Linked DNA regions of Homo sapiens: all the other regions are linked to region 5. Evidence: fine-mapped expression QTL. A gene starts in region 5. Each other region holds a variant in brackets. All regions are shown on one strand. Distances are between the middles of the regions.

Evidence for each region. PIP is the estimated chance that this variant, and not a neighbour inherited with it, causes the effect. A credible set is the group of variants that fine-mapping cannot tell apart.
Region 1: its variant is the best candidate, but not a certain one, in a credible set for the expression of RASGEF1A in whole blood (INTERVAL, PIP 0.76).
Region 2: its variant is the best candidate, but not a certain one, in a credible set for the expression of RASGEF1A in unexposed skin (GTEx, PIP 0.79).
Region 3: its variant is the best candidate, but not a certain one, in a credible set for the expression of RASGEF1A in whole blood (INTERVAL, PIP 0.54).
Region 4: its variant is the best candidate, but not a certain one, in a credible set for the expression of RASGEF1A in monocytes after R848 (Quach 2016, PIP 0.57).

Annotation. Positions count from the first base shown.
Region 1 is chr10:43,237,415-43,242,516 of GRCh38, reverse strand. All of the region lies in intron 1 of RASGEF1A (RasGEF domain family member 1A), which reads left to right. Among named protein-coding and RNA genes, the nearest start is that of RASGEF1A, 27 kb to the left of the region's middle. The variant G/T (reference allele first, on the strand shown) is at 3,018.
Region 2 is chr10:43,118,676-43,123,768 of GRCh38, reverse strand. It overlaps RET (ret proto-oncogene), which reads right to left. Exons shown (of 20, transcript NM_020975.6): 14 at 4,024-4,238; 15 at 3,566-3,688; 16 at 1,753-1,823; 17 at 1-98. Among named protein-coding and RNA genes, the nearest start is that of CSGALNACT2-DT, 17 kb to the left of the region's middle. RefSeq lists enhancers at 1,714-1,763, 2,514-2,633, 2,744-2,803, 2,814-3,073. The variant CTTT/T (reference allele first, on the strand shown) is at 2,835.
Region 3 is chr10:43,173,263-43,178,364 of GRCh38, reverse strand. It overlaps CSGALNACT2 (chondroitin sulfate N-acetylgalactosaminyltransferase 2), which reads right to left. Exons shown (of 8, transcript NM_018590.5): 7 at 2,333-2,414. Among named protein-coding and RNA genes, the nearest start is that of CSGALNACT2, 37 kb to the right of the region's middle. The variant AC/C (reference allele first, on the strand shown) is at 2,434.
Region 4 is chr10:43,222,750-43,227,851 of GRCh38, reverse strand. The region is part of intron 1 of RASGEF1A (RasGEF domain family member 1A); the gene reads left to right. Among named protein-coding and RNA genes, the nearest start is that of RASGEF1A, 42 kb to the left of the region's middle. The variant C/ACC (reference allele first, on the strand shown) is at 2,276.
Region 5 is chr10:43,264,506-43,269,607 of GRCh38, reverse strand. RASGEF1A (RasGEF domain family member 1A) reads left to right here and starts at 2,543. Exons shown (of 13, transcript NM_145313.4): 1 at 2,543-2,763. RefSeq lists an enhancer at 3,038-3,913.

The DNA.
Region 1 (5,102 bases), 27 kb after region 5:
GAGGGAGAGGGAGAGGGAGAGGGAGCGATTTTTTTTTAACTGACCTACTGTCTAGAGTTTTTGTTCATTATTGAAAGTGGGGCTATTGAATTCCCCAACTATTTTTGTTGAATTGTCTTATTTCTTCCTTCAATTCTATCAGTTTTTGCTTCTTGAATTTTGGGACTCTGTTGTTAGGTATATATTTGTTTGTAATTGTTATATCTTGTTGATTAGCCCTTTAATCATTATAAAATATCCTTCTTTGTCTCTAGTAACAATTTTTGTCCTAAAGTCTATTTTCTCTAATATTAATATAGCCATTCTGGCTCTCTTTTGATTACTTTTTGCTTGGAATGTCTTTTTTCATATTTTCACTTTCTTATTTATTTATTTTTTTGAGATGGAGTCTCGTTCTGTCGTCTAGGCTGGAGTGCAGTGGCGCAGTCTTGGCTCACTGCAAGCTCCACCTCCTGGGTTCACGCCATTCTCCTGCCTCAGCCTCCTGAGTAGCTGGGACTACAGGTGCCCACCACCATGCCTGGCTAATTTTTTTGTATTTTTAGTAGAGATGGGGTTTCACTGTGTTAGCCAGCATGGTCTCAATCTCCTGACCTCGTGATCCACCCACCTTAGCCTCCCAAAGTGCTGGGATTACAGGCGTGAGCCTCTGCATCCGGCCATATTTTCACTTTCAACTTATTTGTGTTCTTCTCTCTAAAGTGGGTCTATTTTAGAAAGCCATGTAGTTGGATCATGTTTTTTTTTTTAACTCTGATAATCTCTGACTCTTAACTGGAGTGTTTAATTCATTTACATTTAATGTAAATACTGATAAGGTAGGATTTGCTATTTGTTTTTTATGTCTTATGCCATTTTTGTTCCTTTATTCCTTCATTATTTTCTTCTTTTGTGTTAAATAGATATTTAGATATTATCTAGTGTACCATTTTAATTTCTGTCTTTTCCTTTATTGTATATTTTTGAGTTATTTTCTTACCTGTTGCCTGTAGGGTTATAATTAATATCTTAACAAATAACTATGTATATGTTATATGTACATGTCAATGTTCAGATTAATACAAACTCAATTGCAACAGTATTCAAAAACTTTGCTCCTCTGTAGTTCTGTTGCCTCTCCTCTCCTTTGTGCTGTTACTGCCATAAAATTTACATTTTTATACCTTGTGTGCTCATCAATCTATACTTATAATTATTGTTTCATGCAGTTGTCTTTTAATTCAGGCACATTCAGGGTAGTATGGTCATAGACCAGTTGTCTTTTAATTCAAATAGGAGAAAAATAGAGTTAAGTGCATAAAATGTGTTTATACTATCTTTTATATTTACTAATATATAGCAATAAATATAAAACCAGTAAAGTTACCTTTAATGGTCCTCTTTATTTTTTCACATGATTTCAAGTTGCTGCTTATTGTCCTACTATTTCAGCCTGAAGGACTCTCTTTAGTAGTTCTTATAAGGCAGGTCTTCTTCTGACGAGTTCTCTATTTTATTTGTCAGGTAATTTCCCTTTCATATTTGAATGACAATTTTGCTGCATAAAGAATTCATGGTTGACACCTCTTTTCTTTCAGTATTTTGAACGTGTCAGCTCAACTGCTTCCTGCCCTTCATGGTTCCTGATAAGAAATCTACCTGGAGTTTGTTGAACTTTTAGGATATGGAGATGAATATTTTCATCTAACTTAGAAAATTTTAGCCATTATTGCTTCTAATATTTTTTTTCTGCCTTATTTCTCACTCTCCTCTTTTTCTGAGACTCTTCTTATACATATGATAGTGTCCATTATGGTGTCTGTGGCTCTATTTATTTGTTCCTTTCTTTTTTCTTTCTGTGCCTCAGACTGGATAATCTCAATGGACGTTTTTTCAAGTCACTGATTCTTTCTTCTCTCTGTTCAAACCTGTTGTTGAGCCCCTCTTGCTATGTTTCATTTCATTTACTTAGTTTTCAACACCAGAATTTCTGCTTGGTTCTTTTTTATAATTTGTATTCCTTTATTGATATTCTCTGTTTGATATATTGCTTCCATACTTTCCTTTAGTTCTTTAAACATCAATTCCTTCAGTCTTTAAAAAATATACTTAAAGTAGCTGATTGAAAGTTTTTGTTTAGTAAGTCAATTCTGGAAATCAGATTCTCCCCACTCTTTGGGGTTTGTTGTTGCTGCTGTTTATTGTAGTAATGGTTGTTTGTTTTGTGACATTTCTGGATTACTTCTGCAAAGTCTGTATTCTTTTGTGTGTGGCACTGAAATCTCTGCTCAGTTATCTTAGCGGTCAAATAATGATTGGAAAGAAATTTTCATAAGTGCCTGGAGTCAATAAAGTTCTCAGTCTTCGCTAAGGGGCTCTGTGTCTTTGGGTATGCTTTCAGCTCTCAGCTAAGCAGCTGATAACTCTGCCTTAGTCTTCTCTTCCTGCTTGCACAGAGACTCAAAGTCAGCCAGAAGTGAGTGCTTAGGGTTTCCCAAGTACTTTTCTGAGCATGTGCACAGCCCTGAGCATGCACTTGACCTTCTAGATTCTCAGGAATGCACTGCAGTTTTTCAAAACCCCTATGATCATGTCATTACTGAAACTTTCCTTTTAAGCTTTCTGGTTAGTCTATTGCTTGCTTCACTGTTATCTACTGCTTCAGGCATTTGTGAAATTAAATACCAGTAATTGTTTTTGACAATGAACCTTGGGGAATATGATTTTTGTACTTGAGACCTCTGAGTCAGGTCAAATACAGACATCCTTGTAAGTGGGGTCTCCATGGGAACTACTGGACAGGTCAAATAATGACAGTTTTCTGAGAATGAAGCTTTGAAAGAGTTCCATTGCTGTTTTCCCTCCAGGGGCTGCTACGCCAGTGGTTTTCATGATGAATGTGGGGTCCTACTTTTCAAGGCACTTGGGATAGAGAGTCAGGGATGGGACTAGGGCAAGTTCAAGTGCTATAAAATTTGCAATTCTTACTGAGATTCAGTTATGTTTTTTGAATAAATCCTCCTAAGATTTCTGCAAGC[G/T]TTTAGTTAATTTTGGAAGTTCTAAAAATGTGGATTCTGACCTTTTTGTTTTTTGCTGGTTTTCTTGTTGCGTTTATGGAAGAGAGGGTTTTTGGAGGTCCTTACTCCACCATTTTCACTACCTGGCTATACTCTATTGAAAGCACTTCTGGGATGTCTCTTTAAACTTACAATGATCATAACCTTTGACCCAGCACATCAAGTATTAGGAGTTCATCTTTTATATGTGGTCACACATTTGAATAAAAACTTTTCATCAATAATGCCCATTGCAGGAGTGTTTTTCGTTGCCAAAGACTGTAAAGCACCTTGGTGTCTTTTGCTAGAGGACCTCTTACATGTGTGGCAGCCCACCTACCCAGTGGAATACCCTGCAGCTGCCACAGAACGTATGGAGTTGCCAGGAGCTGAGGGGCTCTCTCCAGGGAGCTGCAGGTGTCTGGGGCAAGTAAAGAAACTACAGGGCATCATTCCAGGCACCACTGATTAGAATGAATAATACCCCTTCTTCGAGAGCCTGTGATTCTGTGAATGACTAAGAAAGAAACTTCTGGAACATTTGTGTCTGCTCTAGGAACAGACACATGCACAGAAGCACGTGCAGACTTGTGTATTCGTGGGTTGCCTCATTTCCATTTGATATCAGGTCCCTTTCCACCAGCCTAGAGTGTCATCCTCTCTGGCTCATGGGGATGGCAGCTGTGGGCCCTTCCCATGGAAGAGGGGGCAGGACTCCCTGAGATGCATTGCTGCCCACATGCCCTACCAGCCTGACCCTGATATCTTTCAGGGTCCCTCAGTATCCCCACTTGCCCGAATGGCAGTCAGGGGCCCTGCCCATCACAGACAGCCTCTCCCCTGCCCTGCAACATGTTATAGGGACCTGCCAAAAGAGGACCTGGGGAAACCCACGGGACCCTCACAGCACCCTGGTGTCTTTGCAGAGTTGCAGGAGTGTATGTGGACATGGGGCTGGGGCAGTGAACAAGGAGGCTGGGGAACCCAGGCTTTCCCCCACTAAACTTAAATGAAATATAAGTAAACTGTCAAAAACGGTAGTAGTAGAGCTATCTAAAGTACTGCAGTTCGGTGAAGTACACTGAGCAGCTCAAGGGTAGGAAACCAGACAATCTGCGATGGCTAACCCTGCTGAAGGCAGGTCTGACTCTGCGATGGCTAACCCTCCTGAAGACAGGTCTCAATCTGCGATACAACACCCCCGAAGGCAGGTCTCAATCTGCGGCGGCTAACCCTCCTGTAGGCACACATAAACTAGCCACGGCTAACTCCCCTGAAGACCCCTTTAAGTCGACATGGCTAACCCTCCTGAGGGGCAGGTGTTACTCTGTGATGGCAAACCCTCCTGAAGGCAGGTCTCAATCTGCAGCACCCCCCCTCCCTCCGCCCCCCAAAGGCGGGTCTCAATCTATGATGGCTAATCCTCCTGAAGGCGGGTCTCAGGCACACCTGCGTCAGGCCTGGCCGCCTTGGCCTGTGTGGCCCACTCCCCTGATGGGCAGGTGGGCTGTGCTGAGCCCAGATCCCCGCCCACAGGTACAATGGCTGGGTCTCTGTTTGCCTGTGCCTGAGTGTCTGCAGGACAGGGCTCTATTCCCTGTGGGAGAGGAGACATCACATGGCGGTCCTGGGACATTCAGGCAGAGAAGCTCTGTGGTCTATGTGCTGGGGCCATGCTGGGATGGTCCCTGGGACTTCTATGGGGCTGGGTGTCGTGGGATCCCTGAGGAGTAGCAGCTGAGTTTGGGGAGAGCGGAGCCAGCTAGGCATCCTGGCATGAGTGCGTTCAGGCCTGGGCTTGGTTGGAACCCACGCCGTGCGTTAGCCTGGTGCCTCTGATGAGCACAGCAGGGACTGGAGGGAGGAGGCAGAATTGGCTGCAAAATAGCAGATGCAGCTGCTCTTTCTAGAAATGTAGGTAAGAAGAAAAGAGAGGTTGGGAGGCAGCTCAGGAGGAGCCGGGGTCAGGAGGACTGTGTCTGTGGTCTGGAGAGGGCAGAGGCTGAGGGGAAATGGAGGTGGGGGGGAGGGGAGGGGAGGAGGGGGAGAGTGGGAGTTAGGGGCACA
Region 2 (5,093 bases), 150 kb after region 5:
CGGTCTTCAGAAGGTTGAAGAGCCGCTCAGGAGGAATCCCAGGATAGGGGTTTCCCCCTAGGGTCACGATCTCCCACAGCAGGACACCAAAAGACCATCTGCAGAGAGTGAAAGGACCAGTGAGTGGCTCCACCTGGCCCTCACAGAGCCCTCCGGGGGGCCCAGATATCCACCCCCACCACCAAGCACCTGCTGACCCTGTCGGCTTCAAGCACAGATGCTCACAGATGTCAGCCTGGGTCTGGCTGCTCAGATGGATGTAGCATGAAGGTGGGGAAGGGCTGCCTGCCTGCCTGGCCCCTACTCCATGAAGCTGAAGTCCTTGCCCAAGCCACTCCCATCAGAGCAGCCACACGCACAAGGGACACATGAGGCTTAAGATGAATTCATGATTAATGAATTAATGATACATTAATTAATATCATGAATTAATCTTAATAATTCTTAAGATTCTCACACTTAAAGCGGTGAGAATGCAGGCCACCAGACTCAGAGTGCCTTGTATAGTTCTTTTGCCATTTCTATGTGCTTGGAAAATTTCATAAAATCTTAGAAGGAAAAAAAGCTATAGAAAAACATTTTAACTGTGAAGGAAAACTCGCTTTGCAATGGGAACAAAATCATATCACAAAACAGCATCGCATGAGCCCATTTAGGGCAATAAAAAGCATACATGTGCACACCACGGAGCACACCAGAGGGCAGCCAGAGGTCACTGGGCGGTGTGGTCCAATGACATTCAGTCTCTTCTTTATGCTTTTCTCTGCCTTTTCCAACTAGCCTACAGTCAGCTTATATAATCGGAAAGCTGTTGTCCAATTGCTTATTCACAGCCCACAGTATTTAAGATGCACATGTTGGCCAGGCGTGGTGGCTCTCGCCTGTAATCCCAGCACTTTGGGAGGCTGAGGTGGGTGGATCATTTGAGGTCAGGATTCAAGACCAGTGTGACCAACATGGTGAAACCCTGTCCCTACCAAAAAATACAAAAAAATGAGCCAGGCGAAGTAGCACGTGCCTGTAATCCCAGCTACTCAGGAGGCTGAGGCACAGGAATCGCTTGAACCCAGGAGGTGGAGGTTGCAGTGAGCCAGGATTGCGCCACTGCACTCCAACCTGGGTGACAGAGTGAGACCCTATCCCCTCCCCCCACAAAAAAAGAGAGGCACATCACACCTCTGCTGACTGTAGAACACTTTAGAGGCAAGAATCCTGTGTTTTAAAAGTGATCAGCTCTTGTCATTGGACCTGGAAGAATGAGATTTTGGCTTCCACCTTTGAGCAGTTTGGGGCACACCAATCTATAAACTCACACAAGGCCATCTTCAGGTGGAGTCCCCAAGCTCCACTTGTGGGTGGGGGCAAGTCACTGGGTGCTCTGCCTGAGCCCAAAGCCCTACTCAGGACCACAGGAGGGTAACTGCTGGGCTGGGCCTGAGTCACCAAGGGACCCAGAGGGAGGCATGGGACTAGCAAGGGTGGGGGAGGCTGGGTTACTGGCCACCTGCTCGGCTCTCATGCTCTACCGGAGCTTTCAGAACTGCAGCCCGGCCTGGCCCAGCCATTTGCCTCACGAACACATCATGAAGGCCCCTCAGTGAGGGGGTCATTGCAGAGGGCTAGCACTGCAGACAGGTGCTCAGGGCCAGTGCAATTCCCTGGCCAAGCTGCACAGACGGGCGTCGTGGCCCCACTACATGTATAAGGGTGTTTCTGTAACCTCCACCCCAAGAGAGCAACACCCACACTTACACATCACTTTGCGTGGTGTAGATATGATCAAAAAGGGATTCAATTGCCATCCATTTAACTGGAATCCGACCCTAAAGAGAAGATGGAATAAAGACATTGAAGTTACTCTAACTCTCTAGGAAGGAGGGGTAAAGGAGAAGGCCAGGCCCTATCCCTGAGCTTTCAGTAACCAGAGGAGTGCTGTAGACACTCCTGGGCACAGAACTGGCCACACACATCTTTGAAGGGGCTGGAGCTCCAGCCTGAACCTCCTGTGGATTGCTGAGATGCTGGCGGGAGTCAGCTGCCCACCCACAGGCACACAGGGCCAGCTTGTCACATGCCACAGGCCTGCTGGTAGTGCAGAGCAGTGCTTCCCTATGCATGGGCCTGGAACTCCCCCTGCAAGATCTCCCCTGGGGTTCTGAGGGCCAATGTGTTTGGGAAACCAACATCTAGCATTTCCATGTTGGGCACTTTGCCAGCAGCTACCACACTGAAGGAGCCTTGAGGGAAGGGATTTGTCTGTGTGCCTTGGGGGAGGCTGTTTTTTCTCTCTTATTGTATTGCAGGGTGCTTTTAGCATCTCTGAATGAGTGCCCCCAGCCCCCTACATCCCTCATCAGTGCTGGGGTCTGACCTAACAAATCCTTTCCAGGGTGACTTGAGAAACAGCTTCTCCACAGACAAGCCTGAAGGTGCAAGTCCATTTTTAAAATGTGTGCCTTGGGTTGGAACACAATCTTACTGTCACTTCTTTTACTTAAACACATGAGGGATTTATGTCCTTAGTGCAGTGTGGCTGTCTTGGCAGCAGTGTGTGACAGTGTAGCCTGCACGTCTTGTATAAGAATGCCTTCAGCTTCTCTCCCTGGAGGACCAGTGCATCAACAGGAAGGCTCTGTCCACACCCTCCACAGGGCAGGGGCCAGCCCCTACCACTTCCCCCCACAGCAGTTCTGAGATCTGCTGTCACAAGGGAAACCCCAGAAGAAACGGAACAGCTCACAACCCCTGGCAACACAAATGGCTTCTCCAGACCCCTCAGAGCAAAGCTGAATCATAGGAAGTCGCCTTTTGTGGTTTTTTTTTTTCTTCTTCTT[CTTT/T]TTTGAGCAGGGTCTGCTCTGAACGTCTGGGCGGCATGGCCTTTGAGCAGCCCCTTGAACTTGCCCTGCCTGGGCTGCCACTGGGAGGCTGCAGGAGAGGGGCTGACATGGGCAGAAAAACTAAGAGGGCCAAGGCAGTTGTCCCGGGACTAGGACCATGGTAGGGAACCAGGTGTCCCCAAGGGTGCCCACTGCCTGTTTCATAGACTTGGACAAAGCTGGGCTGCGTTTCTGGATCCTGTCCAGGGGGTTCCTATGCCTCTAAACTCACCCAGCCCAGTGTCCAAGGCCCCTGTGCGGGAGAAGCCTCACTTGTAAAGCAGTTCATTCCTTTTTGCAAAGAATGACGATCCTGCTAATTTCATCCCACCCTTCTTTGAGAAAAGAGCTAAGGTCATATCAGAACGGTGACCTTTATTCTGCAGAAGAGGACTGTTAGTTCCGCAGCATGAGGTGGCCTCTGAAAAGTGCGGCAAGGGCCTCGGGTCAGTATGCTGCCAGGGAGGGGTGCCCTGGAGGCCCTGGAGGAGAAGGACATGGCAGAGGCTGAGCGGAGTTCTAATTGGGTCCTTGGGGACCCAGGGTCAGAAAGATTTGGGGTGAGGGCTATAAAAAGCTTAGAGCTCCACTAATCTTCGGTATCTTTCCTAGGCTTCCCAAGGGCACTGCCTGCCCCATGGTGCACCTGGGATCCCTGGGAGCCCCGCCTCATCCCCGGGACTGGGCACCTGGCTCCTCTTCACGTAGGAATCCTCTTCATAAACATCTCGGGACAAGCCGAAATCCGAAATCTTCATCTTCCGCCCCTCAGCTACCAGGATGTTTCTGGCTGCCAAGTCCCGATGAACGAGCTGTGAGGAAAAATAGCACGAGTCGTCAGGCCATGGCCAGGCAGCAGCGGTCACTGGCTCAGCCTGGTGTGACCAGCAGAGGGGTGGTGTGTGGCCCGGGTAGCGGCCTGGTGAGACCTGGGCCGGGGGTGTGGCATGGCAGGGGCGTGGTGGAGTCAGGGTGTGACATGGCAGGGGCGTGGTGAGCCATAGCATGGCATGCCATGGCAGGGGCATGGTGGGCTAGAGTGTGGCATGGTGGGGGAGTGGCAGGCCAGGGTGTGGGTGGCAGGGGCGTGGTGGGTCAGGGTGTGGCCTGGCCGGGGCTGGCTGGGTGCAGAGCCATATGCACGCACCTTCATCTCGGCCAGATACTGCATCCCCTGTGAGATCTGCCAGGCAAATGAGATGAGGTCGCCCATGGTGAGGGCCCGCTCATCCGGGTGGTCCAGGGAGCTGGAGTTGCGGCTGCCTCCACTGCCCAGGTAGCCAGGCCCCACTTTGCGGCTCTCGCGGAGGAAGCCCCGCAGGGAGCCGTATTTGGCGTACTCCACGATGAGGAGGAGCGGGCCTGGGGGCGGAGAGAGGGGGCCCTGGGCGTGCGGGTCAGGCAGCTTGGGTCTTCCAGGAGCCAGGGGTGGGAGGCCGCAGGGTCCCCAGGCCCGGCCACCCAATGAGTAAGGGGGTGGACACAGCCCTGCCTCAGGCAGCACTGCTGCAGCTCTGTGGAGAGCGCAGACCTTGAAGCCTCAGCTTTCTCTTGAACCACTTGCTCTCTGCCTCCTGCTGCTCGTGTGGGTGCCTCCTTCTCGAGGTGCCTGAGGCAGGCGACACTGCCCTGGGAGGCACCCCTCCCTGATGCTAGGACGCCAAGCCTTTTTGCCTCCTGGGTCCTGCCCCAGTGCAGGCTGGGGATGCTGATGGAGGCAGAGGCCTGCGCAGATGCAAGGGTTCCTGCCTGGCGCTGGGCTCTGCACACAGCCTGCTCCCTGTTCCCACCTGTCCTGTCCCAGGCCCAGCCTCCAACTCTACTGGTGCCGACCACAGTGCCTGCTGCGCACTCCCGGTGTTTGGGTTCCCTATCCCTCTCGCACACACCCACACACGCATGCTGGGAAGCCCCTGAGCAGCATGGTGGTTTGGAAAACCAACAAACCAGGCTGGTCTCCTGGGTCTTTATCTGAGAAATGGTGACAATGTTCCTGCCATGCAGGGCGGGGCTGGGGTCACCTGAGGTCACAGCACACCTGGTGCCCTGTGGTACCCAGGGTACCCTAGTACCCAGGATGCACTGTCCATTCCTAGAGCTCCCTGCCCCACGGGCCCAGCCCCGAACTGGGTGAGGACACATGGCAGTGTCACACCAGAGACCTCTGAGTAGCCCTGTGGGCCCAGGGAGTGCCGCTAGCGCGGGGCCCCTCTGATG
Region 3 (5,102 bases), 91 kb after region 5:
AGGCGTGAGCCACCGTGCCTGGCCTGTATTAGGTATTATAAGCAATCTAGAGATGGTTTAAAGTATATGGGCAGATATGCACAGGTAATATGAAAATATGTATATTTACATAAGGGACTTGATCGACCATGGATTTTGGTTCCACATGGTATCCTGGATCCAATCCCATGCAGGTACTGAGAGATGACTATAATGGCTGAAACTTCCCAAATTTGATGAAAAACATTAATGTACATATTCAAGAAGCCCAAGAAACTCCATAACCCAATTAAAATGGGCAAAGGATCTGAACAGACATTTCACTAAAGATATACAAATGGCCAATAAACACATCAAGAGATGCTCAACAACATTAATCATAAGAAAAATTATAATCAGAGTCACAATCAATACCACATCCACTATCATGGGTGATACTAGAAACAAAAAGATAATAACATGTATTAATGAGGATGTGGGGAAACTGGAACTCCTAAACACTGCTGGTGGGAATGTAAAATGATGCAGCCACTTTGGAAAACGGTGTGGCAATTTCTCAAAAGGTCAAACACAGGATTACCATATGACCCAGCCAGAGTCCTGGGCATATGTCCAAGAGAATTGAAAATCTATGTCCACCCAAAAAGTTAAACACAAATGTTCACAGCAGCAGTATTTATAATAGCCAAAAAGTAGAAACAACTCAAATGCATATAAACTGACAAATGGAGAAACAAAATGTGGTATAACCACACAATAGAACATTTTTTGGCTATAAAAAGGAATGAAGTACCTAACATGTCACAACATGGATGAACTTTGAAAACATTATGTGAGTGAAAGAAGCCAGTCATAAAAGGCCACATATTGTACAATTTGCTTTCTATTAAATTCCCAGAAGAGGCAAATCTATAGGAAGTAGACCAGTAGATGCCTAAGTTTGGGGGGAAAGAGGGTTGGTAGGATGTGAGGAGTGATTGTTAATGGGTATGGGATTTCTTTTTGGGGTGAAATGCTCTAAATTTGATGGTGGTGATAGCTACATGACCTGGTTAACCGTACACTTTAAATTAATAAATTTTATGATATGTAAACTATATCTCAATAAAATTGTCATAAAAAAGAGATAAGGAACTCAAAGCATTCAAGATACTGAAAAAATGTACACAAATCTATTTTTGAGGAATAGTGAAATGCTGCTTGCTTAACTAAGCAAGAAATCAAGGAAAAGAGCATCAGTTTAATTTAACGCCCCTTTTATTGTTATTTCCTGATTTTCCATTATTCAAGTGTTACAATGATAAGGAGACAAGGTGGGGGGATTTCCAAAACAAAAGGCTGGTTATAAAAACGAATGTGATATGGACCTAGAATGTATATAAAATATATTCTATGACTTCTATGCTGTAGAAAGGTAGCTAGCCCTAAATGAATCAGAAGACATGGAATCAGGTTTCAGCCTGCTTTATTAAACTATTCTTTGACACTTTATATTTTGCTGGGTAAGACTGAAGCTAGGGGCTGGGCATGGTGGCTCACGCCTGCAATCCCAGCACTTTGGGAGGCCAAGGTGGGCAGATTGCTTGAACCCAGGAGTTCAAGACCAGCCTAGGCAATATAATGAAGCTCCGCCTCTACAAAACAAACAAAAAAATTAACTGGGTGTGGTGGTGCACGCCTGTGGTCACAGCTACTTGGGGATTGAGGTAGGAGGATCGCTTGAGCCTGGGAGGCAGAGGCTGCAGTGAGCCAAGATTGTGCCACTGCTCTTCAGCCTGGACAACAGAGCATGCAGGATAGTTAGAACAAATTATTCATGGGCCATCTTTAGGCTTAGGGGAATGCATGACTAAGGTGTGATTCCAAGACGCGCTAGAAAGAGCAGGTCTTCTTTCATTTGTATTAAATACTGGGATTTTGTGTAACAGTTCACTAGACAAGTAAAGGAGGTTTCATCTCAAAAAAATGTGAAAGTCCTTGGTCTAGATAACCAAGATTACTCCCAGCTGTAACAACCCATGGGCACAACAGTAAAGTTATAGAGAAAGCTTTTGTAAGACTACTCTAAACACCTGCAACTATGGGTAACAAGTTAAACAGATATTTTTAAAAACAGGTGTTTTGATTTTAAAGGAACAAGTAAATATTATACTTTATTTTTATGACCATTTTTTTCCTATTCAAAACATTAATTATAAACTTATTTTGCCTTTTGTATATCCAGTTTCTCTTTTTAGCTAACCTTAGACACTCATACTTTAGTAGGAAAACACTCAAATCTGAGACCTTTTAGCAAAATACCATTAAGTCTGGAGTAAATAAAGTCCTATCCTTAAATGTAAAGTATACTTACCAATGGTCAGGAAATCTGAACGATACTGACAAGTCATTCCAAAGCCAAAATCTCGCCAAAAGCCAGAATCCTTTTTGTGAACCTTAGTTAAAAAAAAAAAA[AC/C]AGAAAACAATTTAATTCCATAAGAAGCAGAAGTTTTAATCAACGATGAAACAAATTATTTTCTAATGTATACTTTTTTCCTGTCATTTATGTGACTGATTAAGGATCACATGCACTTATGTTATTAAATCCTTACAAAACAAATAAAAATAGAACTCAAAGCCTGTACAAGGTGCAAGCTGAGGTTACTAATTATCATTGTGGTGCCTGACTTCAAGGGGCTTACATTCTAGGACAACAGTTGCATAAACAAATTGTAACACACAGGATCAACCTTACACAGTAGACTTTATCTGGTGCCTACCCAGTATCCATTCCCCCAACCCCCTTCCTGATTGGTACAGTTTTGTTCTGGTAATTACCTGGCCCTGGGCAGCCCATGAATTCAGGGAAGCTGCTGTCACCAGTAGATTCGGAGTGGGCCATGAGTCTCTATACTAGTGAGACAGTCTCACCCCACTTACCATAGTGGCTCACTTACTTACTGGCTCACTAATAGGTATTTAAAAAAAAATCAGGCCAAGTAGGTAAACCAGGGTGGTTGTTGGGAACTTTGGAAAACAAAGCTCCTTCGTTCTTCTAAGAGACTCACTAGAAAGGACATTTGGTCGTAGGGCAGGGTCAGCAAACGATGGCCTCTGGCTAAATCTGGCCTGCTGCCTGCTTTAGTAAATAATTTTAGTGGAACGTAGTTGTGTTGATCTGTTTACAAATTGTCTATGGGTGCTTTCACAGTGCAGTGGCAGAGTTGAGTAGTTGCAGCAGAACTGTATGGCCTATAAAGATTAAAACATTTCTTATCTGGCTCTCTACAGAAAACATTTGTTGACCTCTAGTGCACGATGCAGCTATGAAGCTTGGAACTGCCAAAGTCCTTTTCTACCATGCGAGAAACCAGCTTTAATATGAGGCTGTCACCACTTAAGTCTAAGTAGAGAAAGAAATATAAAACCAGGGCATTGATGACACTGAGTCCTTGGAATCACTTCTGCTTACAAGTTGAAGCCTGATAAACCTTTTATTTTATTCATACTTTCAACAAGTGTTTAATCTTTTGGATATGGTTCTAGTAACTGAGGCTTAGCAATAAACAGAGGTGACAAAGTCCCTGCCATCAAAGCGCCTTTGTTTGGGTGGGAAAATAGTAAATAAATAAATATACATTTTAGGTGGTGATACATGCTACAAAGAAAAGAGGCAACAGCTATAACTAGGGATGGGAAGCTGCTAGTCTAGTGTGTGCTACTGTGGTATGTACCAAAAGCAAAAGAGTGTATGGATGTGGAATGTGGAAAAGATTTAGGTCAGAGACTTCACAGAAGTCAGCAAGTGATTGAATGGGCAGGAGTGGGGAGTGAAGGAGAAGGATCAACCAAGATGACAGCAGGCTTCCGTCCTGAACAGTGGGTATGTAATGGTGCTATCCCTAAGATGAAGCCCAGGGGAAGGGCCAGCCCAGAGAGGAACAACATGGAGTTGGTTCTGGCCATAATGAATCTGAGTGATCTGTAAGGCACCTACACAGAAATTCCTGCAGATAGCAGGAATATCAAGGTCTGCAGAGGTGACAAATTTTGAGAAGAGTGGGCACAGTCTGAAATTGCTGCTGTACAGAATAGGAGAATCAACAGGAAAACACATAATGAACCAGGCAGCCCTGAGGGCTCAGCTCAGATTGGAGCTGATGGATGAGTTTGGCATTTTTCTTTTCAATTTTTTTTTTTTTGAGCTGAGGGGGAGAACTTCTTCCCCTTCTAGAATGTAAAGCTCCCTGAGGGGAGGACTTGTGGATTCTGTTCACTGCTATATTCCTAGCACCTAGAACAATGCCAGGCACATGACAAGCTTTCAATAAATACGTGTTGAATAAATAAATATATAGAGAGACATAATTTTAGTGGCAAAATGAAGACTAGACTCTATTATTATTATTATTTTGAGACAGAGTCTCACTGTGTTGCCCAGACTGGACGGCAGTGGCACAATCTTGGCTCACTGCAACCTCCAGCTCCCAGGTTCAAGCGATTTCCGTGCCTCAGTCCGCTGAACAGCTGGGATTACAGGTGTGCGCCACCACACCTGGCTAATTTTGGTATTTATAGTAGAGACAGGGTTTCACCATGTTGGCCAGGCTGGTATCGAACTCTTGACCTCTGGTGATCCACCCACCTCGGCATCCCAAAGTGCTCGGATTACACGTGTGAGCCACCACTCCTGTCTCTAATATTCTTATCTCTTTGTTAAAATATAACCCTGATACAAAGTATTAAAAAGCAAAACACCCACTTTGACATCTCTACACCATGCCAATTCTGATTATATAAGTACTATAACTTTGTAACTTAGTTTCTCTAAAAATTCTTCAAATATTATCAGACTTGGAAAAAGGAATCATTGGTTTGATTTTTAAAGCAACACATTTTCACAAAGGAAAGTAGAAGGAAACTCAAATTGTCCATAATCCTTATTGTTAATATTTTCTTGCACTGTTTTATCTGGCCTCCTAAGCATGTGGGAGATGCAGTTATCCACACATAACCTATATACCCAAGCCTTGGCCTCTCACAGAATGCCAGATCCCTGTAGCCAACTAGCAATTTGGCACCTCCCCTTGGATGTCTGATAAACAACACATGGCTACTATGGCTCCAGTTGAATCCCAATCTCT
Region 4 (5,102 bases), 42 kb after region 5:
TGAGATGGGGAAGGTCAGGCTGGCGCAGGAAGGAGGGTGTTGCCCTTAGAGGTGGGCAAGATGGCAGGCACAGCAGGTGGGAGCAGGGACAGTTCAACACTTCCCACCCCAGAGGTGTTGCCTGGCAGTGGTGTGGGCAGTCTAGAGTCCAGGGAGAGGTCTAGGCTGCATGTGCTCATGCAGAGCCTGGCTTGCTCCACCCTGCAGGCTCCTTGCTGCCCTGCCTCCTGGCCACCCTACCCACACCTGCACCTGCTGGCTCAGGACAGTACAGCCCTGGGCCCCAGCCTTCCCAGGCCCAAAGCCCATCTTGCTGGGCCTGCTAGCTTGAGCCACCTTCTTTCAGCTTCCCCAGGAGAGGTGGGATGAGGACTCTAGCCCTCAGCGGGGCACAGGCCAGGGGAAGGAGAGCAGAGCCATGGCCTCTCATGTTAGCCCACCACCTCTGTGCATTGGGGGTCCAGGCCTGGCCAGGATGCAGGGGGCACTGGGGACAGCACAACCCAGGGTCACATACTCACAGACACATGGGCTGCAGCAGTGCCATCTGTCGGGGGGGCAGGCAGTCAGGAAGGGCTGCCTGGGGGAGAGAGTCTCACACTGGCATTGGTGGGATGCATGAGGATTGACTTAGTGCAGGGGAAGCTGCCTGCATCTCCCACACCTTTGGGCTCTTGGACCTCGCCCTCCAGGGAACTGCTGGTGAGTGACCAGAGGAAGGAGACCAAACTGTCATGTCAACCTCCCTTTTCCCCCTTAACCCACTGGAAAACCCCTGGTTATCCTTGGAAGCTGATCTCAGAATCACCTCCTTCATGAAGCCCTCCCTGACTACTCCCTACAGAGTTAGTTCCCCACCTCCGTGCCTCCACGACACCCGGCACAGACCCCCAATCCTGAAGAGATCATGCCATGCCATGGAGTTGTGTCTGTCTTCCCACAGACACTAAGGTCCATGGGCTGTTCCGTTCTGAGTGTGTGGCATAGGCCACAAAGGCCTCAAGGGATGCTGACTTGACTGAACAAGTTCTGGAAGGAAGGAGGAAGGAAGAAAGGAAGGAACAAAGATGAGGGCGGGAAGTGGCCTGTACAGGCTCTCTACTTCTTGTTTTACATCTGGGGAAATTGAGGTCCAGAGGGGCTGTGTCTTGCCTGAGGTCAGCCAGGAGGTCAGGGGTCAGAGCTGGTTCCTGGGTCATGAGGGCTCCACTGTGTGGGTTCTGGGCTGCCTGGGTCCCTGTGGGTTCCAGGACAATGGGAGTTCAGAGGCAGATGGGACACGAGGCGTGGGGGCTCCTGAGGGAACCCGGGGACAGTCAGGTGGGAGCCCATGGATGGCGTGGATCTCGGAGGAGGATGGCAGCCAAGATCCCCTCAGCTTCTCTGTTTCTTTTTTTCTTTTCTTTTCTTTTTTTGAGACAGAGTTTTGCTCCTGTTGCCCAGACTGGAGTGCAATGGCATGATCTCACTGCAACCTCCACCTCTGGGGTTCAAGCAATTCTCCTGCCTCAGCCTCCTGAGTAGCTGGGATTACAGGCATGTGCCACCATGCCTGGCTAATTTTGTATTTTTAGTAGAGACGGGGTTTCTCTATGTTGGTCAGGCTGGTTTCGAACTCCTGACCTCAGATGATCTGCCCGCTTTGGCTTCCCAAAGTGCTGGGATTACAGGCATTAGCCACTGAACCTGGCCCTCTGTTTCTTCTTCTGGCCCCTGCTGCTGGCTGGGCCCTGGCCCTGCGGCCCCTGGCACCACTGGCCAAGTGGAGTTTTGTTGGCAAAGCTGGTGTCTTGTGGTCTCAGCCTCGGGGAATAACCCAGCCCCCACCCCTGTCACCGCCCACACCCGCCTTCCGGGCTGGGACCCAGCCCCTGGCATTTCCCAAATGTCACTGTGACTGCCGCCAGCCACCCCTGCCCAGCCTTGGGCCGGTAAGTATGCGTCAGAGCGCCGCCCTCCTCTCTCTCCCCCTCCCCGTGGGTGAGGAGGCTCAGCCTTCAACTCTGGCCCCAACCTGAGTATGACTTCTCTGGGGACCTCCCTGGGGCCACATACAACAGATGTCCTTAAAACAGGGACTGGCATGTTCCTAGAGTGCCCAGCCTGAGGGGGCAGTGGTGTGGTGTTTTGGGTGGGTGACCAGGAAAAGTGGCTTCAGGGTAGCTGAGCTGGTTGGCAGAGCAGGCCCACTGTGGACATCGTGTTCCTGGGGGATGGTAGTGGAGCTTAGAGAGCTGAGAGATCCGTGGACACACACACACACACACACACACAC[C/ACC]CATACACAGACACCCACACACAGAGACACACATAGGTGCACACAGACACAGAGACACACAGACACACAGAGACATGCAGAGACACAGACACAGAGACACGCAGGCACACAGACACAGAGACACACAAACACAGACACATACAGAGACACAGACACAGAGACACATGCAGGCACACACACAGACACAGACACATGCAGAGACACAGACGTAGAGAGACACACAGACACATGCAGAGACACAGACACAGAGACACAGACACACAGACACACACAAAGACACAGACACACAGAAACACACAGACACAGAGACCCCCCCCCCACAGACCCCCACACACAGACATGCACACACACACAGACACATGCAGGCACATGCACACACACAGACACAGAGACACACACAGACACAGAGACACAAAGACACACACACAGACACATACAGAGACACAGACACACATAGACACATGCAGGCACACACACGCAGAAACAGAGACACACTAACACAGAGAAACACAGACACACAGACATATGCAGAGACACACAGACACATACAGAGACACACAGACACACCTCCCCTACTGCCACTGGTGTGAGCATCTCTGTAACAGCTCCACACAGACTTATGGGCAGACACATATGCCCAGGGGAGGTAGATAAGTAAGCTATTGATTTTTTAAAAGTTTATGTTAGGTAATTGATTATTGATACCTTACTAGTTTGAACAGATTTTTAGTTTGGCTTCCTGGAAAATCCAAGAAATTAATTATATTACTTACACATAAGGAACAGCCAACTTCTTTATTTCTAATGTATCTTTAGTTTTCTTATCTTATTATGTTTTCTAAAAGGTGCAAAGTAACATTAAATAATAGCAGTTGTCTTTGGCTTGATCTTCATTTTAATGAGGAGGCTTTTCATGTTTTACTAAGTCTGAAACTGGCCCATATTTCCAATAGGTATTCGTCATCAAGGACAGTGTGCTGGAATCCTACATTAATTGCCAAGAGTGCACACCAGGAATGGATATTCAGTTTCATCAAAGGCTTTCCTATATCTAGCAAAATCATCAAATGCCTTTCCTCCTTGGACCTATTAATGTGTTGACTTATTAACTCTTCTGAGCTAAATCATCCTCTTGTTCCTGGAATAAAGCCCACTGGGTCAGGCTCTATTGTGCTTAAAAATGCTGCTGAGTTCATTTTACTGATGTGTTGCTATGTTGCTGAGGGTATTTTTCACTATTTTCAGAGGTAAGAATTTATGCATACTTTTCTACTAGGAGACATATTTGTCACATTTATAAATCATGCTATTTTAGCTTTATAAAATGAATAGGAAGGCTTTTCAATATGAATTGTGTAGTTGAAATAGTTTATATATCATATAAAATTATCTTATCCTCAAAGGCTTGAAATAATTCATTTTAGAAACTATTTCAGCCAGGGCTTTCTTTTATTTTTTCCAGAGGCTTAGTTGGCTCTCAACTTAATTTGTACTATGGTTATTGGTCTTTTTGGGTTCTAAACAGTTTTACTCTATTTTTGGTTACTTATATTTTCTAGATAATATAAGTAACCATTAAAAGTTCTTGCAGATCATTTACCACAGATTTAGGTAGTTGTTTGTTTTAAACTTTCTTCTACATATCTGGAGTTAGATTCCCTTTTTTCATGCCCAATGTATTTTTCATGTCCTTCCTTTCTTCCTTCTTCTCTCCCTCCCTTTCTTTTTTAAAATAAATTTTTATAATTTTTTTAAAGAAATAGAGACAGGTTCTCACTAGAGCCCCCCAAAGTGCTGGGATTACAGGCATGATCCAGGGTGCCTGGCCCTCCCTCCCTTTCTTCTTTCCTTTTGTTGATTAGAATTGCAAGAGGGTTATCCTTGAAATCTGTGTTTTCAAAGAATCAGCTCTTGAAGTTTATAAGGAGTTCTACTCTATTCTTTGATTAAGTCATCTAATTTGCTTTTTAGTAGTTTCTTCTTCCAGTTTGTTTCACTGTTTTGTTGAGAAGCTCTTTTTTAAGCTTTTTGAATCAAGTGCTTAGTGTTTACTTCAATACATTATTGAAGTCTATGAACTTTTCTGTGAGTACAGCTTTGGCCATATCAAATTCGATACAGAGTTTTCCTATAAAGGTTATTTTTCTGACATCTGTAATTGGAATTTGAATCTTTAACACAGGTGTGATTTAGGGATTTTTTTTATGAAGTGGGTATTTTGTTTATCAGTTATATATTAATATCCAACTATAGTACATTGTGCTTATGTCATTCTCTCACCTGCACACTTCTATTTGGGGACTTTACTGGGTTTCATTGGTGGTATAACATACGACCATGTGGCAGAGACTCTGGACAGTAGAATGTGCCTTTCTGTTTCTAGACACAGTTTTTCACATATCTTGGTCCCCTGTCCAGAGAGCATGCACTGCAATATTTTCATCCCTTGGGCATCTACCACTTGCTGGGCAATTTCTGGTTGTGAATCTAGCATGAAGAGGTGCTCACTGTGTTTCCTGGGCATAGCTTTGTGTTCTTGGGAGTTTACCTCTAATAGGGTTATAAAAAAAAAACCAATAAAGTGTTTTTCTTACTCTCCACTCTCAGCCATTTAGCACAACATTCTAATACCAGATTCTCTAACATTAAGACAGCAGCTGGGTGCCCTGTAATTCAATTTGGACAATATTGGAGGCGAAGTCAGATCTCACAGGTTGAGAGCTTGGTCCCACAAGGCTGTCCCCCTCCCTCGACTTCAGATGCCATTTGCAAGTCTCAGGTTGTGGCCTGTGCTTCTGACCCACCCAGCAAATCACCACTCCTGGGA
Region 5 (5,102 bases):
AGTCAAAAGTTGTTTCTTTAAAAAAAATTATAAAACTGACAAAACCCTAACAAGACTGATCAAAAAAAGAGAGTGAAAAACACAGAGGTCCCCAATATCAGAATCCAAGTGGGACATAGCTACAGATTCTACAAACATCTGCGGGATAATATAAAAGATGTTATAAACAACAATATGAGGATGTCAGAAAATCTGAAAATTTAGAGAAAATGGGCAAAATCCATAAAAAACACAATTTGCAAAAGTTACATAGGAAGAAGCAAATAATCTACATGGTCCTATATATTAAAGAAAATGAACCTGTCATTAAAAACCTTTCTACAGTGAAAATCCAGGTGCAGAGAGCTATTAATATTCTCACTGAATGGGTGTATTCTTATTGAAAATTCATGGAGCACAACTTTATGATTTTTGTCTATGCATGTTATACTTACAAAAAATTATCCTTGGGAGGCTGAGGCGGGAGGATTGCTTGAGCCCAGGAGTTCGAGGCTACAATGAGCTATGATTGTGCCACTGCACTCTAGCCTGGGGGACAGAATGAGACCCTGTCTCAAAAAAAAAAAAAAGCTATAAAAGTTTACTTAAAATGAGTAAACAAATAAATAATATGGGGAGTGGTAGGTGGGCATACAGATGAAACAGAATTGGCCATGTATTGATAATTGTTGAAGTTGGGCCATTGAGTTTATTGTATATACCTTTTTAGCCGTTACTATTATAAGCGTTTAAAATCTTACATAATAAAATATTGTTTGTAAAAAATAGTAAGATCATATTACTTTGTGCAAAACCCTCCACCTCCCTCTGAGTCAAAGCCACAGAGGGCTGATGGCTGGCCAGGCTCTTCGCGATATGGTCCACCTGGCAGCTCCTGCAGGCTCCTCTCTACCACACTCACTCATCTCCACTTGGCCTCCTTCTAAGGCATCCTCCACCTCAGGGCCTTTGCATGTACTGTTCTCTTTGCTGAAAATGTTCATTCCTCGGATTCAGCATAGCTTGCCTCAGTTAGGTCTTAGCTCAGATATGATCCTTTCAGCCAAGATTTCCCTGATCACCCAAAATAAAATCCCCAACCCAGCAGGGAAGGGTGGTGGTGAGAAACTACAGTTCTAGCTACTCAGGAGGCTGAGGCAGGAGGCTCACTAGAGTCAGGAAGTTCCAGGCTGTAGAGCATAGTGATTGCACCTGTGAATAGCCACTGCACTCCAGCCTGGGCCACACAGTGACACCTCCCCTTAAAAAATAAAAAAGAATCCCCCACCCTACAAGCTCCCCTCCCCCTCCCTTCGCTGGCTCCCTCTCCCTGCTGGGCCTCTCTGTGGGATCTGCAGCATCTGACACATGAACTATTTATGTGTATTTTTATTCACTGCCTACTTCCCACAAGAATGCAAACTCCAACCAGACAGAGACATTCACAGCCGAATCCCAGTGCCCCATCTTACACCTGGCATACAGGTGTTCAAGACACAAGGACTAAGTGAGTAAGCAAGGTCCTCAGCCTCTTCAAGGGGTGCTGTGGGGCTCCTCCCCATTTTTTCACACAGACCCCTCCACCTGGGGACATCGTCGCCCCAGACCTGTTTCTCACTGGCCCTCGTCTGACTGCCTGCAAGAGTCACTCTGGGCCACCCTGGGGTCAGGCCACAGGGTGTCCGTTCAAGAGAAGGTGACCCTTCAGAGCGACAGGAAGTTCCAGTGGACGCCAGAAGACCTGTGTCCTGCTTTAGTGGTTCTGAAATCTTTCAAGGTGGCTTTGGAGCCTTGCTCTGCCACTTATAGGCTCTGAGACCCTGCAGGGTAACCGCACTCCCTGTGCATCAGTTTACTAACCTGTCCAATGGGAACAAATCCACCACCGACCTTACAGGGCGATTAAGATGGTTAAGGGGAGTGACCCAAGGGGCCAGGACTTGCCCACAGAAGGGCTTTCACCGTCTGATTCCACTGACAAAAATTTTGCCAGCTCTGCGGGAGTCCCCAGAGGGCCTTTTAAATGCGGTGGCCGCATCGCCTCCTAGCTTGTCTGCTGCCTGATCCTTTTTTTTTTTTTTTTTTTTTTTTTTTTGAGACGGAGTCTCACTCTGTTACCCAGGCTGGAGTGCAGTGGCGCGATCTCGGCTCACTGCAAGCTCCACCTCCCGAGTTTACACCATTCTCCTCCCTCAGCCTCCCGAGTAGCTGGGACTACAGGCGCCCGCCACCACGCCCGGCTAATTTTTTTTTTTGTATTTTTAGTAGAGATGGGGTTTCACCGTGTTAGCCGGGATGGTCTCGATCTCCTGACCTCGTGATCCGCCCGTCTCGGCCTCCCAAAGTGCTGGGATTACAGGCGTGATGCCTTATCCTTTTTAAATGAAAGCCTGGCCGCCCTCTCCCGGCGCCCGCCCTGTCCCAGTGCCCTCTGCTCGAGCCCCGTCCCGCGCCCTACCTCCCCCTGCACCTTTGCCCCGCACCCTCCTCCCTCCGCGTCCCGCGCCCGCCCGCTCCCCCGCTCCCCGCGCTCTCGCGCCCGCTCCGTGCCCGCTCGGCGCTCGCTCCGCGCTCGCTCGTTCGCTCGCTCGCTCGCGCTCCCCGGCGCCGGCTGCGGAGGGAGCTGCTCTGCCCGCAGCTGGCGCAGCGCGGGGGCGGCCGCGGGTGGGCGGGTGCCGCGGGCCCGGGCGCCGAGCATGAGCCGCCGCCGGCGCCGGCCGCGCGCTGCTCGGGGCCCGACTGCGGCGCGAGGGCGGCGCGGGAGCGACGCTGGCCCGGACCGAGGTAGGCAGCGGCCGCGGACCCTCAGTGCCTCGGGGCCCCCGCCCGCGCCTGGGGCCGTGCCCTCCGGTCGCCGGCGCGGGCAGGGCGCGGCGTGCGCGGGCCCGGGGTCCCTCCCGGCGCGGCCGTCGTGGGGCCGGGGCGCGGGCTCCGGGCGCGGGGCGGGGGACGCGCGCGGGGAGGGCGGCCGGGATCCCGGCGCGCGGAGTTGCTGAGAACTCCGCCCCGGGCTGGACGGCGCCAGGACCCCCTGCACCCTCCGCCCCTTCAGGGCACCTGGCGGGCCGGGCCGGGCCGGGCCGGGCGTGGCAGGAGCGCACGCGGCGGGCGGGCGTGGGCACTGCGGGCAGGTTCGCTGCCCGGGGCCTGGCGTGGGGGTGGGGGCTGGGGAATCGGAGGAGCTCAGGGCTGCGCAGTTGGAAGTTTCCATTTGCTCTTCTGCATTCTGGGCCCCGCCGTGGTATCTCACGCCCTTGCTGTTTGGCGAGGAATTGGGGCTTGAGCTCTGCATTTGGGGGAGAGGTCCAGGGCCATGCCAGGTGTCTCCCTCTCCCTGCTGGGCAAGGGTCATTTGAAGGACCACGCTCTCTTTGCCCCAGGCCTTGCCGGCCCCAGGAACGGGGCAGGTGCAGCTGGTTCTGGTCCGAGGGTCGGTGAGTGAGAGGTGGGGGCGGGAGTCCCCTGCTGTGTGTGGAGGGACGCGCTGGCAGGTTCCTGTGCCCTGCATTTCTGGCTGCCTCTGGGTGCTGGACCTGGTGGATATTTACAGAGAGGCCGCTGCCTGCCTCTTGGGAGCCACCTGGGGGCAGAGACCTGGTGGTGGCCGGGGCTCCCTCCCTCCCTGCTCAGAGCAGTGAGCTTCTCCCTGGTTCACCCTCCCCACCACTGCCACTCTTCTCCCACTGTCCTGCGCAGGAAGGGCCCCGATGGCCGTCGGCCGCAGGATCCTGAAACACAGGAGTCAGGCTGGGTGCAGGGGAGCCTCCCAGAGGCCTTGGTTCCCTCTGTCCCCCCAGGGTTCTCCCGCCCCCTCCGGATGCAGTCTTGCCAGCCCAGCCTGTCCACCTCGGTGCCCTGGACTCTAAGCGGCTCTAGGGGGCCTCCAGCCGAAAGGCTACAGGTCTTGATTCGTGAACCACGGGCAGGCTGCAGGCTTCTGAGACTCAGTTTCCCCATCTGTAGACTGACACGGTTTTGATGACCTCTGAGGACATTTCCACCCTGATGTCCAGTGACACTTTGCTTTGGAACCTCAGGACCCCAGCCCAGGAAGGGGAGATCCGGAGCAGGGGGACATGGAGGACCTTGGCTGGATGGCCAGGGACACGTGGGTGGGTTCTCTGCCCCTCCAGCCAGTGTGTGTCCTTAGGGCTGTGGGTGGTAGTGACCCAGCGAGGCGGGTGCAGCAGGCCCACACTCCCTGCTCCTGAGAAGGGCATGAGCTGTGTGGATCCCCCAGGCTCTCTAGTGAAGTAGAGAAGCTGTGTCCTCCTGCACATGCCCCTGGGTTTGTGAACCAAGCAGGTATCCCAGGTGTGCCTTGGCCTGAAGGCCAGCCAGTGAGTTTGTTTTTCTCTGGGAGGCATCTTCGAGCTGCCAGCCGGATGGCTCCCTTCCACCTGGCAAATCGTGGAAATGGAACAGTTCACACAGAGCAGAGGGGTTTTTTGGTGTAACTTAGCAACTGCAGGCAGGGGAGGAGGAGGAGGAGGGAGAAATGGCATTTGTGCTGGACAGTGGCTGCGGTGGGGAGAGCCACGCACACAGTGGCCCCCAGCGGTGGGAGGGGCCAGCCAGGGAGGAGAGCGAGTGGGCACTGGGACACAGTGTGGCCAGGAGCCCCTGAGCACGCCGGTCCCCACCTGTAGAATGATGCCAGGGGCAGGATGGGACAGCTTTGGTTGGCCTTTGGTTTTTGGCAATAGAACCGTGGGTTTCACAGAAGCCCTATTTGTCAAATAGGTCAAGTGAAGGTGCTGTGCCAAGGCAGGGATGGGGGCAGGGGGTTTGGCCCCCCCACTGTCCTCAGGAGAGGGGCTGGTGGAGGGATGCTCTTCTCTGCATGGCCCACCCCAGGGGAGGGGCGCTGGGCTGCTGGGGGTAGGTGCCAGGGGCATAGCAGATAGCAGATGGGGAGGAGACTCAAGGCATTCTCCCCCACCCCTCCCTGCTGCCCCTTGACGGACCCTCCCTCCCCTTCCCCCTTTTTCTCCTGAGGCCATCTGCTTGGGTCCGGCACTCTGGCTGCTTTTCTGTTGGAGCTTCCAATCTGCCTCCTGTAACTCCCACCCACTCCAGCCTGCCTCCCGGCTCCTCTGCCCTCCCCTGCCCACTCCCTGCTG